Linked DNA regions of Homo sapiens. The protein of the gene in region 1 interacts with the protein of each later gene in a pairwise test. Each region holds a gene or a part of one and is shown in the gene's direction. Other genes may lie near its edges.

Region 1 (5,599 bases):
AGCTTTATGGAGGCATGACACGTGAGTTGTGTCATTTCAAGGTGAGGGTTAGCCAGTCTAATGAAGAAGAAAAGGGAATTCAAGTTAAGAGAACATGCAAAGGCATAGGGGTTCAAAGTTGAGACAGGTTTCAAGGGTTGCAAATAAGATGGCATGGGCCAAGTGTAATGGCTTCATGCCTGTAATTCCAACACTTTGGGAGTTAAAGGTGGGAGGATTGCTCAAGGCCAGGAGTTTGAGACCAGACTGGGTAACATAGTGAGACCCCATCTCTCTCTCTTTTTTTTTTTTAAAGTATAAAAATTTATTTTTGGCCAGGCGTGGTGGCTTACGCCTGTAATCCCAGCACTTTGGGAGGCCAAGGCGGGCGGATCACGAGGTCAGGAGATCGAGACCATTTCTGTCAACATGGTGAAACCCTGTCTCTACTAAAAATAGAAAAATTAGCTGGGTGTGCTGGCATGTACCTGTAGTCCCAGCTACTCTGGAGGCTGAGGCAGGAGAATTGCTTGAACCAGGGAGTTGGAGGTTGCGGTGAGCCGAGATCGCGCCACTGCACTCCAGCTTGGTGACAGAGTGAGACTCTGTCTCAAAAAAAAGAAAAAGAAAGGTCTGTAACTCGAACATCATTTGGTGGGCTAAGTGCTTTACTTGCAGGGTCATTTAATCCTCATTTCAACCCCTTTTATAATTGAGGCGACAGGCCCAAGGTCCCTCTCCCGGGATGTTTTGGAAGAACAGTTCAAACCTTGGTTTTGGTGGGTGTAGAATCTGTTTCTTACTTTGGAGCCATCTGGTAGTACAACAGCCATGGTGTCCTAACATAGCCAACCTAGCCATGGCTAACCTCCATGTCCTCGTCAGACCCCAGACCCAGACATCATCAGGTTTTGAACTCCCTTAGTCTGGCTCCAGAGCATGTGCCATAACGCAAAATTGCAAGGTTAGTACTGTCCAGTCCTTTGATCCGCAGCAGTGTGTGGAAGAGGCAGATAGAGGAGCATTTGAGTCTGGGTGTTTTTGGAGGCTTCTCATACCTGATTGGTCCCTATAATTATGAGGAAGAGAGGGATGGACATGGTTGGAGTGTAGGCATCAGCGGAAGTCAGATCCTGCCCAGACCAGCTCCCCATCCTCTGCCTATGCTATCAGCCTTGACGCACCCTTCCTCAGCACACTGGGCATCCAGGAGAAGTACCTGGCACCCTCGAACCAGTCAGTGGAGCAGGAAGCCATGCAGCTGTAGCAACAAGGTGGACCCTGGAGAGCAGGATGCATAATCCAGCACTGGGGAAAGTGGAGGCTCCTGATGCAGGCTGCAGACCCAAGAGCAAGTCCTCCCAGCCAGAGCTGGCGGGCTGGCAAGGGGATATTCAGCTCTGCAAAGGACTTCTGGCCAAAAAGCCAGACATGGTGCCAAGCAGAACACCCCCCATACTGTCAGTGGTGTCCGTGAGCTCTGGGCCCTGCCACCAGAAAGTCGAGCACTGGTCCTAGTCAGGCTGTGATGAAATGTGCTACAATACAAGAGTTTATTTTCTACTTTTTGTGACTTCCAAACTTTTCTTCAGTCTTCCGGGCCCAGGGGTTTGGGGAAGAATGAGGGAGTGTCACCTAGCCTTGGAATAATCAGTATTTCCCCAAAGCATATAATTCACATTCAGTCACATAGGATTTACATTCAGTCTCCAGTCATGTGTTTTTATTAATCTTCAGTTTTTGGTTCTGAGGTTTGTTTTTTAAAAGATGGGGTCTTGCTATATGGCCCAGGCTGGACTCAAACTCCTGGGCTCATGTGATCTTCCCGCCTCAGACGCCTGAGTAACTGGGACTACAGGTGTGAGCCACCATGTCCCACAATTTTCAGTTTTAACAGAGCCTCAAGCTTCAGCTTTCACAGGCAACACTTCCTAACTAGAACTTTGTTAATGTTTTATATTCACTGTATTTGTTTTATGGTTTTATTCTATTGTTGACAAGTGTTAACTAGTTTTCCATTTACAGTAGTGGTTAAAAGTTTACTTCAAGGCTGGGTGCGGTGGCTCACGCCTGTAATCCCAGCACTTTGGGAGGCCGAGGCAGGCGGATCCCAAGGTCAAGAGATCGAGACCATCCTGGCCAACATGGTGAAACCCCATCTCTACCAAAAAATTTTTTTAATTAGCTGGGCATAGGTGGCGCGTACCTGTAGTTCCAGCTACTTGGGAGGCTGAGGCAGGAGAATCATTTGAACCCAGGAGTCAGAGGTTACAGTGAGCTGAGATTGCACCACTGCACTCCAGCCTGGTGACAGAGCGAGACTTTGTCTCAAAAAAAAGGTGTACTTCAAAAATGAAATACAAGGCTGGGCGTGTTCACTCATGCCTGTAAGCCCAGCACTTTGGGAGGCTGAGGCGGGCGGATCACCTGAGGTCAGGAGTTCGAGACCAGCCTGGCCAACATGGTGAAACCCCTCTCTACTAAAAACATAAAAATTAGCTGGGCATGGTGTTGCACGCCTATAATCCCAGCTATTGGGGAGGCTGAGGCAGAAGAATTGCTTGAACCCAGGAGGCGGAGGTTGCAGTGAGCCAAGATTGTGCCTACATTCCAACCTGGGCGACAGAGCAAGACTCTGTCTCAAAAAAAAATAGTAAGTTGTGTAAAGAAAAATATTAATTATATAATATGGCAGTTCCTATGAGAGTGTGGCAAAAATCAAGAGGGCTTGGAAGTTTTTTCTTTGCTCTTGCAACTGGCTGGATGCAGTTCATATATTTTTCAACCAGTAGGTGGCACCCCAACCTAATTTTTTGCAGTTGTAACCTGGTGGCAGAAGGGGCAGGACTGATGGCTTGGGCAAGACTGTTATGCCAAGTTTTATTTGCATGTATTTGGACTTTCTTTTTTTGGAGACAAAGTCTCTCTCTGTCGCCCAGGCTGGAGTCCAGTGGCACAATCTCGGCTCACTGCAACCTCCGCCTCCCAGGTTCAAGCAATTCTCTGCCTCAGCCTCCCGAGTAGCTGGGATTACAGGCGCCTACCACATGCCCGGCTAATTTTTGTATTTTTAGTAAAGACGGGGTTTCACCATGTTGTTCAGGCTGGTCTTGAACTACTGACCTCATGATTTACCCGCCTTGGCCTCCCAAAGTGCTGGGATTACAGGCGTGAGCCACTGCACCCGGCCACATTTGGACTTATTAACACATATGAAGTGCTTGGTATTTTAGAGTGCTTCCACACACACAATCCTCATTAGAGATAGACAGGATGGGGAGAATTAATAAGCCATTGCCCGTGTTACAGTGAGGAAGCAGAAAGATGAGAAGTTTGAACTTTGGTCAGCCTGGCTTTCTCATAACCCATTTTGCTGACTAAATTGCGAGTATCCCTCCTTTGGTATATTTATTGGTGAGAAGTCACAGCCCTTGTCCCACAGGTTTTGCAGCCAATCAGGAGAAAGAAATTAGGCACCTGTAAAGTATTACTGAATCATAGATAGTTCACCAGTGGTTTGGGCAGTTGGCAAATTAATTTAGGGACATCTGTTCTGAAACAGCATTGAAATAGGACTGACTGCTTTGCTTTCTGGTTGTGGCAGCCAGAGCCAAAGGCAGATGAATGAGGGGCTATGAGGAGGCTACTGTGGCTGGAACAGTATGAAAGCAACCTCAGCTCCCACGCCTGGCTGTAAAGGGGATAATAACTGGGTGCTGCTTCCCAGCCTCTTTCATCTGAGAAGTTCAAAGCACCTCACCCCTATTAACACCCCACAGAGTAGGTAGGAAGTACCAATAGAGCAAGCCAGGAAAACTGAGGCCAGGAGGCACAGCCTGGGGCTAGCTGTGAATCACCTGTGGGGCCTAGAGCCCAGGAATCCTGACGCCCAGGCTACTGGACAAATCCTTTATCAGGGCATTAGGGTGGGTGCTATGCTTTTGAAAGCAGTACCAACGGCTGTGGTCGTGGGTTTTGATGCTTGCCACTCACAGAGGCCCCAGCTCTCACCATAACAAACCAAATGGGGGCTGGAAGGCATCCTTTACAACTTTATGGTCTCGTATGCAAGCACCCTCAGCATTCTCTGCACCCATGGAGTGGAGATGGGTGGGAGTAATCCAAGGCCTTTATTTTCAGGCCATGGTTTGACAGCAAGGGTATTTTCTTCCCCAATAAACGTAGCTTCTGTCTACCTTCCACTGGCAGCAAAATGATTTTCTGTTCTCTGCATATACTGAGGGGATCTGCACAGTGCAGAAAGGAAGATGTCCGAGATCCAAGTGAGGCCTGTTCAGTGTGAAATGTCTAGGGTAGAAGAAAGACCATCCTCCATTATGGCTGGCATGTGGCAGTCATCCTTAAGATTATTTTTAAATTTCCTAATAAATATAGGAAAGTAAAAAACTTAGAAAATGAAAGAGAAGGCCGAGCACGGTGGCTCACGCCTGTAATCCCAGCACTTTGGGAGGCCAAGGCGGGCTGATCACCTGAGGTCAGGAGTGTAAGACAAGCCTGACCAACATGGTGAAAACCTGTCTCTGCTAAAAATACAAAAAAATGAGCAGGGCATGGTGGCATGCGCCTGTAATTCCAGCTACTTAGGAGACTGAGGCAGGAGAATCGCTTGAACCTGGGAGGCGGAAGTTTCAGTGAGCGGAGATCGCGCCATTGCACTCCAGCCTGGGTAACAAGATGGAAAGTACATCTCAAAAAAAAAAAAAACGAAAATGAGTCACCCAGAATCCCATAACGGAAACTTTCTATGGGGTCATCTGTTTAAGAGAAAAATAAATTCTATATTCAAATGTATATTTTGTGTATTCTCTTTTTTTCTCATCTCTGTAAATACCTGGAGATATTTTATGTATTCTTTCAGCCTTATTTTTATACCTGGGGTGGATATTGCATTTATATAAGTGGGATATTTTATAATTGTGTTGTATCCTGCCTTTTTCAGTTAACACCATTCCATGTAATAAAAAATAGATACAATTCCTGTAATTCTAGGACTCTGGGAGGCTGAAGTGGGAGGATCACTTGAGCCAGGAGGTGGAGGCTGCAGTGAACTATGATTGTGTCACTGCACTCTAGCTTGGGCAACAGAGTGAGACCCTGTCTCAAACAATCAAGTAAATAACCTTTTTAATGTCACTTTGGTAATAGTCCATGGTTTGGCTATAACATTGTTTACCTATCCATACTCCCGTGGTTAGCCTACTACTAGCCTACAAGTCATCACCAACTTTTACTTTTGTAAATAGTGTGATTAATATCCTCGTACCCAAATCATTGTCTGAGTCTCTGATTTTTAACTTGGGAGGTAGTCCTGGAAATGAAATAACTGACATATTCCAGGTTCTGGATTCATGTTGCCAAAATGCTTTCCAAAAAATGTGCCACTTTACATCTCACTGATAGTGTCTGAAATTGCTCTTCTCATCTCCAGACCTCCCTTGACAATTCTCTACAACTTCGGGAGGGAGGAAGCCCTCTCTGAGTGTCTTAGAAGGGACCTTCCTGGTCATCCCTACTAACCACTGACATTAGGTTATATGCATTTCTTGGCTCTGAACTGGGAACCTCAACAATTAGAAGACAGTGTAGAATTGGAAGAACT
Region 2 (7,864 bases), on another chromosome or scaffold:
TAAAAGAGAACATTTTAGAAATTTACTCTTGCTTCATCTCTCTCTTCTTATAGCAAATCCATTAGCAAGTCCTGCCTACCACCAACTACATTTTGAATCTGTTCACTCTACTTCTGCCATTCCAATCTAAGCCATCATTACCTCTTGCCTAGACTACAGTATCTTCGTAATTGGTTTCCTTCCACTTTTTTCTGGCTTGGATACACTCCACATAACAGTTGTAGTTTTTAAAATTAGGTAAATCAGACCTCATTCACCTGCTAAAGGCCCTCGGTGCCTAAACTCCTGCTAGCCTTAATAGCCTCATCTTCCTTTCCTCCACTCATGTTCTGTGACCATTCCTCAACTATACTTTACATACACACCTTTCTGTTCCTTGAACCTACCAAGCTTATTGCCATCTTAAGGCATTTGCATTCACTGTTGCCTCTGCCTAGAATAGTTTCTTCCCCAGTTTTTGCATTGTAGGCTTCATTTTAGCAATCATAGGTCTTAAATTTCACCTCAGAGGTCTTTTCCATCTAAACTCACTTTCTGTAACATAACCCTGTGTAATTTTCTAAATAGCAAAGCAGACAAAATGCAGATTGAAATCTTAGTTGGCCAACTTGCTGCTTACTTAGAGGTATGGATTTCAAGGTATGAAATCAGTTATCATTCAACTTTTAATGTCTTCAAGCCCTCACTCTGGAAGGGACAGCCACAAGCAGTATACCATATCCATTACCTGGGATGATAAGTAAAAATGAACTGAGATCAGGTGGAAGTTACCCACTCTTGAATTAGATAATTGGGACACCAGTGGCAGGAGGGGAATTAACAGAACTAATATGCTTCCTACTTTCCAACTTTTTATCAGCCTTAGAAATACATTGTCTTAGGGTTTTTACGTCCACAGAGACTAAGCCTTCAAGTTTGTCTTGGATACCATGCTTTCCTTGTTCAGTGTTTCTGTATTTTCAGCTCACAAATTGAGATTTAGGTTAAAGTACCTGTATGCTAAAATCCTAATTTCTGCATTAAAACTAGTTTTTATTATTTGCACATGTGAATAAGACATTTAAGAGTGGTAACAGAAGAGTGATGAAGTAGAAAATGTGTTACATTGGAACAGTAATAAAATCAGTGGATAAATGTTTTTATTTAATAACATTGTTTAATAAAAAACTACATATTTAACAGAAAAGTTGTTAAAGCTACAAGGTAAAGGCACATTGAAGGAGAATGCTTTTTAAATCCAATTTTCAGGGAATTCACTTTACATGTAAATAAAGCAGAAAATGCAGGAAAATTATTTTGAAGTTTTTCATCACTTAACAATTTCTGGGAAACAAAGTTCATCCTATTTTCCCATAGAGGACCCCTGTTAAAATATAAGATTATATTCCCCTATACTAGGATTCAGCATTCAAATAAATCACTAGTCCAACTTCAATGTCGTAGAACCCAAAAAAAATATAACTATCCTAAAAATATATAATTTAAAATATAATTTATAGTTATACTAAATGGGAATAAACATATGGCACACATTAATTACAAAGGATACTTCATGTACTAGAAAGTGCACCTGTAAGAAAATTAATAAATGACCTAAAACTAAAGCATTTAGGATAACAAACATCATTTTACTTGCTATCTTTTAGAATGCTGCTAGGGAAATCGATGGCACTTAAAAAAAAAGTTGTCCAAATATTTCAACTTTTTTTGGATACGTTTTCCTGAAATAAGTGGAGGCATTCAGTCACCTCAATGCTACAGGTGTTTCTTCAAATAAAACATTTTCAAAAGTAAGAGCTGACCTAATATATGTCTCCTTCATCTTTTCTTACCTTCTCAAACTTGTAGGGGCTTAGCATCAGATGAAAGGTCACTCTGCCTAGCACTTACTGGACTTGCTGTTATCAGAATGCTTTTTCACTCATGAGAAAACTAGAAGGAGCTACCTGGTCACTGGCACAAACTCACAAAGAGCTTGTAAAAACTGCTTTTGTCTGCTAAGTTGGTCAAAAGGAATGAGGATAAACTGGCAGAACGCTATTCAAAGTCTATTTGGAATGCTATCCTTAAAGGTACTTTCTCTATAAAGAAATACAATTTAGCTAGATGAAATAAATCACAACTGTTTTCACTTCCTTAGGTTGGTTTCCTTTAGCTAGTTTGATGTATGGTAAATGGCTAGGTTAGGGTCATGTGTTAGGTTAACTGGAGGTTTGTGGAATAGCTTATTAACGAGTATTTAAAGAAAAAGCTAGTTAAGGGAAGCTGGTTACCAAATATCTAGTAGGACTGTTGGATAAAACCATCTAATCCTTCACTCCAACACATCATGATGGAGATTTTACAATAGCAATCTGGAATCCAACAGCCTTTCTAACCAGGTTAATGTAGCACTTAAGAGTACTTGCTCCAGTTCTTATTTAATCAGTGTTATTTTAGAAGTTACTTTGGATTAATCCTTGATTTGGTGCCTTGGGGAAGACTGGGTGTGGTCTTTGGAACATCCTGTCTATTTAGGCACTGATTATGACTTCCTTGCAGTCTCTGCCTCGCCTGGATTAAGGACTCCAGATACCACTGTTCCTGCTGCAGCTGCTGCTTCCTGTTTTCTAAGTGGCTTTGAGTAGCCGTTAGTTTCTGGGCTTGCTCAATTAGCTGCAGTAATTCCTTCTTGAACTGCTGGTTCTCTCTGTTGATGCCACAGGAGTATTCAAAAATAAACCGCTTTGCTGCCAACTTCAAGGCCTGGGCCTTCATATTAAGCTCTCTTCTTTTTCTCTTTCCCAGTAGCCTCCTGTCTGGCTCGCTCAGTTGTTTCTCCAGTAATCTTTTCTCCTGGAGGAGCTGGGCCTGTACTTCCCGTGTCTTTGAAGCTGTCTCAGCTTGGACTTTCTTTGTCTCCTCCTGTAATGTCTGTATTTCTTTCTCCTGCTTTTCCTTTAATATAGCAATGTCCCTCATTGCCTGCAACTTCCGCTTCAAACTGGATTGGATATTTTCCTTTTGCAAGAGCGCTGTTTTAAGCACTGAAATTTGTTCTGCATATCTGGAGGCTGATTCTTGTCTTCTTCGTTCAATCTCTCCACTTTTTTGTAAATAGCTGTTCCATACCTTCTCAGGTTGCTCTGTGTACTCTTCAGTTTTGTTAGTCAGGTATTCCAGAAAGAATCTGTTTTCAGCCTGGACAAGTAACTTTTCTCGGTGTAGCTCCCTGGATTCCTCCAGTAGCTGTTTCCGCTGGGTTTGAGCTTGTTTTATATGCTTGTTCAGATCCGTCATTTCCGCCACTATCTTTTCTTTAAGCCTTGTCTCTACCTTTGTTAGCTTCTCTGGCTTGACAAAATTATTTATTAGACTATGATACGGTGGAAGGAGCCTTCTGGGGCCCTCAGCAAACCTGAAAGAACAAACGAGACATTCCTCTGTCAGTTAATGAAACTTTAGGAAGTAAGTGCACAACTGTCCTTCATTCATACAAGAGAATATTTCTGAGCACCAGAATGTTCCAGACATTATGCAAGGTGTGGGGAATCCAGCTAGTGGTAAAGGATGAGGAATGTAGCTCGTCATTTACAACGTGCATTCACTACAACCCTGGGAGGTATTACCTCAGTTTTAAAAAAGGAGAAAACAGGTTCAGAGAGTTTAAGTGACTTGCCCATGACTCACACCACTAGCAAGTGGCAGAGCCTGGGTATTAAAGCCAGATCTTATGACTTACTGAACACTGTTTGCAGCTACAAAGGGTCACAGAAACAGACTGGGTGGTCAGGAGTAGAAATAATTTTCTAGGCTCTTTCATCATCTTTCCTGAGTTTCTGAGGGACCTTCAGTGACTGGAGGGGAGGAAGCTCCCCTCCAGTACCTACTTGCACCTGGAATCCAAGCATTCATCCTGAAGGTCACGGCAACTGTGTAGTTCACTGAGGGTGACTGCCAAGGAATGAGCGCTAGCATCAGGAACCTGCGTCTGCAACTCGCGGGAACAATGTGCAAGTGTGGAAAGCTCCCGTAGTTTATTCGTTCGGTGCTCAAAGGGTCTCGGTGCTGCCCAGCAACCCTGGAGACTGCACCCTGCTCCAGTCCCGGCTGGTCCAGCCCTGAACTGTTTAACCGCCTCGGCTACCGAATAAGCCCGAGCAGCCGGTCCTCCAGTGGCTCCGCTCCCCGTTCTCTGTGGGCTCAAAATGACAGGCATGCTCCTCGTTTTCTTGCTGTGTGAGCCCTGCCCTCGGGACCCCATCTCTTCTGGCCTTCCTCCGGGAGACAAAAGCCCTCCCAGGCTGCAGAGATCAGCGCCCTTTTCCTAGCTCCCTTCAGCCTTCCTCTCGCTTGCTCAGCGCCCCCACTTCCTCGCCACTGTCACTAGTTGACTCATCAGCCCTGCCCGACGCTAAGAAGATGCCCTGGCAACCGCCGCGCCCCTCACCCGCTCCTTTCTGACGCTGTGGTGGTTTTCGTTCGCAGCCCAGAACATTGCGGAAGTTTCTCTACCCATGCGGTGTCTCTATGGTCGGGTGGGTGGGGCCAGGAGGAAGATGGCGGCGTCCGCAGCTGCCGCTGAGCTCCAGGCTTCTGGGGGTCCGCGGCACCCAGTGTGTCTGTTGGTGTTGGGAATGGCGGGATCCGGGAAAACCACTTTTGTACAGGTGACGTACACAGCATGGGTGTAGTAGGGGAGCGCAAAAGGTTGCCTCCGGCAGGCGGAAGGCCAGGAAGAAAGGGAGGGAAGAGGATTTGGAGGGTACCGGCGCATGGCTTTCGGGGGCTTCCCATCAACTTTAGTTCCTTCCCCGGCAAAGCCTCCTCGGGCCCTAGCCAGGTTAATTAAGGCTCTCTTCTGCGCACCTTCAGGGCATACTCGGTCCAGCTTACCACGTTGTACAGGAATTGTCTTGCTGATAAAATTGCGTTTCTCGGAGGCAAGTTACAAGTAACTTTAAAGATTAATACAGTGCTAGCACACAGGTTTTGGTGAAGATTTGCCAAATATTTCTTGCACGCCTGTCATGTTCCATTCACTGGGGATATAGCGAAAATGAGGTTGACAAGATTCATTCGTGGGGCCAAATATTTAATGGAGGAGATAGAGAAAACCCACATACGAAGAATCAAAACAAGTAAACAAGTGACTACGAGTAGGGGAAGCTTTGTTAGATGGGTGATGAAGAAAGGTAGCATTTGAACTGAGAGTTGTATCTTGGAGGTGGACATGGTGGATATTTCAGGTAGAAGAAAATCTAAGTGCAATATTCTTAAGGCATGGGTGTTAAAGGAATGGAAGTTCTCTCTTGTCCCCTCTTTGTCTCCTTCCAACCCTCTCCCCATATCTCTGCAGAGGCTCACAGGACACCTGCATGCCCAAGGCACTCCACCGTATGTGATCAACCTGGATCCAGCAGTACATGAAGTTCCCTTTCCTGCCAATATTGGTGAGTAAACCAGTAACATAACTTGTGTGCAGTGCTTTAAAGAGAATGGAAAAGGCCAGGCGTGGTGGCTCACGGCTGTAATCTCAGCACTTTGGGAGGCCGAGGCAGGTAGATCACGAGGTCAGGAGTTCAAGACCAGCCTGGCCAAGATGGTGAAACTCCATCTCTACTAAAAATACAAAAAATTAGCCAGGCACGGTGGCAGGCACCTGTAATTCCAGCTACTCGGGAGGCTGAGGCAGGAGAGTTGCTTGAACCCGGGTGGCAGAGGTTGCAGTGAGCCAAGATCGTGCCACTGCACTCCAGCCTGGTCAATAGAGTGAGACTCTGTAAAGCCTCCAGCCTGCCAGTCTTCAGTGCCTTCTTTTTTCATGTTTTCTAAACTATCTACTTTCATTTCCTTTGGATTTGCTTGCATTCCTAAACAGCTTAGGTTTTTTTTTTTTTTTTTTTTTTTTTAGACAGAGTCTCTGTCACCCAGGCCAGAGTGCAGTGGCGTGATTCACAGGTCACTGCAGCCTCAACATCCCAGGCTCAAGTGATCCTCCCACCTCAGCCTCCTGCCGCTATGCTGGGCTAGTTTTGTTTTGTTTGGAGAGACAAGGCCTCTCTATGTTGCCCAGGCTGGTCTTGAACTCCTGGGCTCAAGTAATCCTCCTGCCTTGGCCTCCCAAAGTGCTGGGATTATAGGTGTGAGCCACTGTGCCCAGCCTAACTCCTTTTAAAAAATCATGTCTGCATTGCCATTGTGTTGCCTTTGTCAGTAATAGGCAATTAGTAAGAAGCATTTTTTCCCCCTTGATTTTTGCCTCCCTTTTTCTAGGCATGTTTAAGTTGCATGAAACTTTGCACTTTGTGGAGACAAAACTCTTTGCCACAACTTTAGAGCTCCTAGCCCTAACATTCTTCATGATTTACTTGGCATTTATTCTTTGTAAGGAAGGAAACCAGTGTGAAAGTGGAGGTGGTAGAAGAGAATGCTGACAGGAGAAGGCTAGAAGGCCAGTTTTACTTTCCTGGTGGTAGGGAATGTGTATGTATTACATTCCAGTTAATTCTTTTTTTTCTCCTCAGATATTCGTGATACTGTAAAGTATAAAGAAGTAATGAAACAGTATCCTTTTCCATCTACTTTGGTCTTGACTCATTCCTGGCTTCTTGTCTGTGTATTTTGTGGCTTGAAAGAGTGTTTTTGCCTTTTCCTTGTGAAATATACAAGCAAAAGGATGGAAGCTGATTGTGGGAGAGGTAGGTGATCAGAAATACTATTTCAGCTTGAGATTTTAGTTTTCTTACCATCTCCCCAGATGGCAGGCTGTTGTAATTAAAGAGCAGAGAGTATGATAGGATAACTGACAGCTACCTGGGTCCCACAAGGTAGTATTTTGCCTTGGAGGATCATCTGTTGGTCACCACCTCTTTAGACTGGGAAACTCAGAAATGAGTGAGTTTAGTTGGATTAACTCTTAGTAAATTGCTGTATGAAATGTGTACTCTCTCCGTAGGCAAGTCTAAGTAGGAAGACTAATCATAATCAGCAGATTGCTTGGTTTATTTATGAGGATCAGAGCCGGAGGTGTTATACAGGTGGCCTTAATGACCAATGCCAGTGGGCTGTCACTGCCTGATGCACCTGTATTACATTTTGGTCACTTTGCTTTCTTCATTTTGCCTGACCACTCCTTAAATCAAATGAGTGAGCCAGACCTTGATAATGACTGTTTCCCTGTGTGGTTAAGTTTGTATGGTAGTCAAGGATTAGGTTGCCAGTATCCATTAATGGAACACTAATTTCATAATGCCGTTTGTGTGAATGATAGCCTAGGTATGAACTTTATAATCTAATCTATAAGCGATTTCAGTCCTCAACTTGGTGTCTAGATATGGACTTGGACCCAATGGCGGCATAGTGACCTCACTCAATCTCTTTGCTACCAGATTTGATCAGGTATATCTGTCTTTAGTATATTAATATGGTTGTGTAAAAATCTGTGACTCTTAAATTCCTTAGCTTGATCACATTGGTAAAGAAGAGCAGCAAACCTGAGCATAAATATAGAAAATAAGTAGGCATTTTGTCAGACAGAGAAGTAGACTATGAGAAGGTGATCAGTATGGTCAGACACTTCAAATTTAATATTTGTGACAGCTAATAAAAATCCAAAAGACCTGGGTTATTTTCTTGACCTGTTCTTTGCCTGTGGTATTACCCCGAAGCTGGGATGGGGGTATTTGGGAGTGGGATGGACTAGCAGTCATGGAATGGAAAGATGATGGGGCATTTTACTTGTGATAAATATTTGTCATTCTTTAGGTTTTCTTTGTCACCTACTTCCATAAGAGTGTTTTATAATCACTGGTTTTTATACTCTGATGTTAGGCCATGAGACAGGCTGTTAACATTTTGACAAGAGATAACAACTTGACATTGA

What was found. Proteins that work in one complex are often made in the same cells at the same time.
Region 2: the proteins of GPN2 (region 1) and GPN1 interact in binary tests that used the Homo sapiens proteins (3 or more experiments, as listed by UniProt).

The regions. Positions count from the first base shown.
Region 1 is NC_000001.11:26,875,324-26,880,922, reverse strand, and holds the end of GPN2 (GPN-loop GTPase 2), read left to right. Parts: intron 1-1,173; coding exon 1,174-1,246; 3' UTR 1,247-4,791; downstream 4,792-5,599. UniProt on the Homo sapiens protein: Small GTPase required for proper localization of RNA polymerase II and III (RNAPII and RNAPIII). May act at an RNAP assembly step prior to nuclear import.
Region 2 is NC_000002.12:27,624,521-27,632,384, forward strand, and holds the start of GPN1 (GPN-loop GTPase 1), read left to right. Parts: upstream 1-4,529; 5' UTR 4,530-4,538; coding exon 4,539-4,649; intron 4,650-4,854; coding exon of another isoform or gene 4,855-4,922; intron 4,923-5,338; coding exon 5,339-5,432; intron 5,433-6,506; coding exon 6,507-6,546; intron 6,547-7,313; coding exon 7,314-7,380; intron 7,381-7,864. Other genes in the region: CCDC121 (coiled-coil domain-containing protein 121), read right to left, coding at 2,443-3,397, 3,876-4,243. UniProt on the Homo sapiens protein: Small GTPase required for proper nuclear import of RNA polymerase II (RNAPII). May act at an RNAP assembly step prior to nuclear import.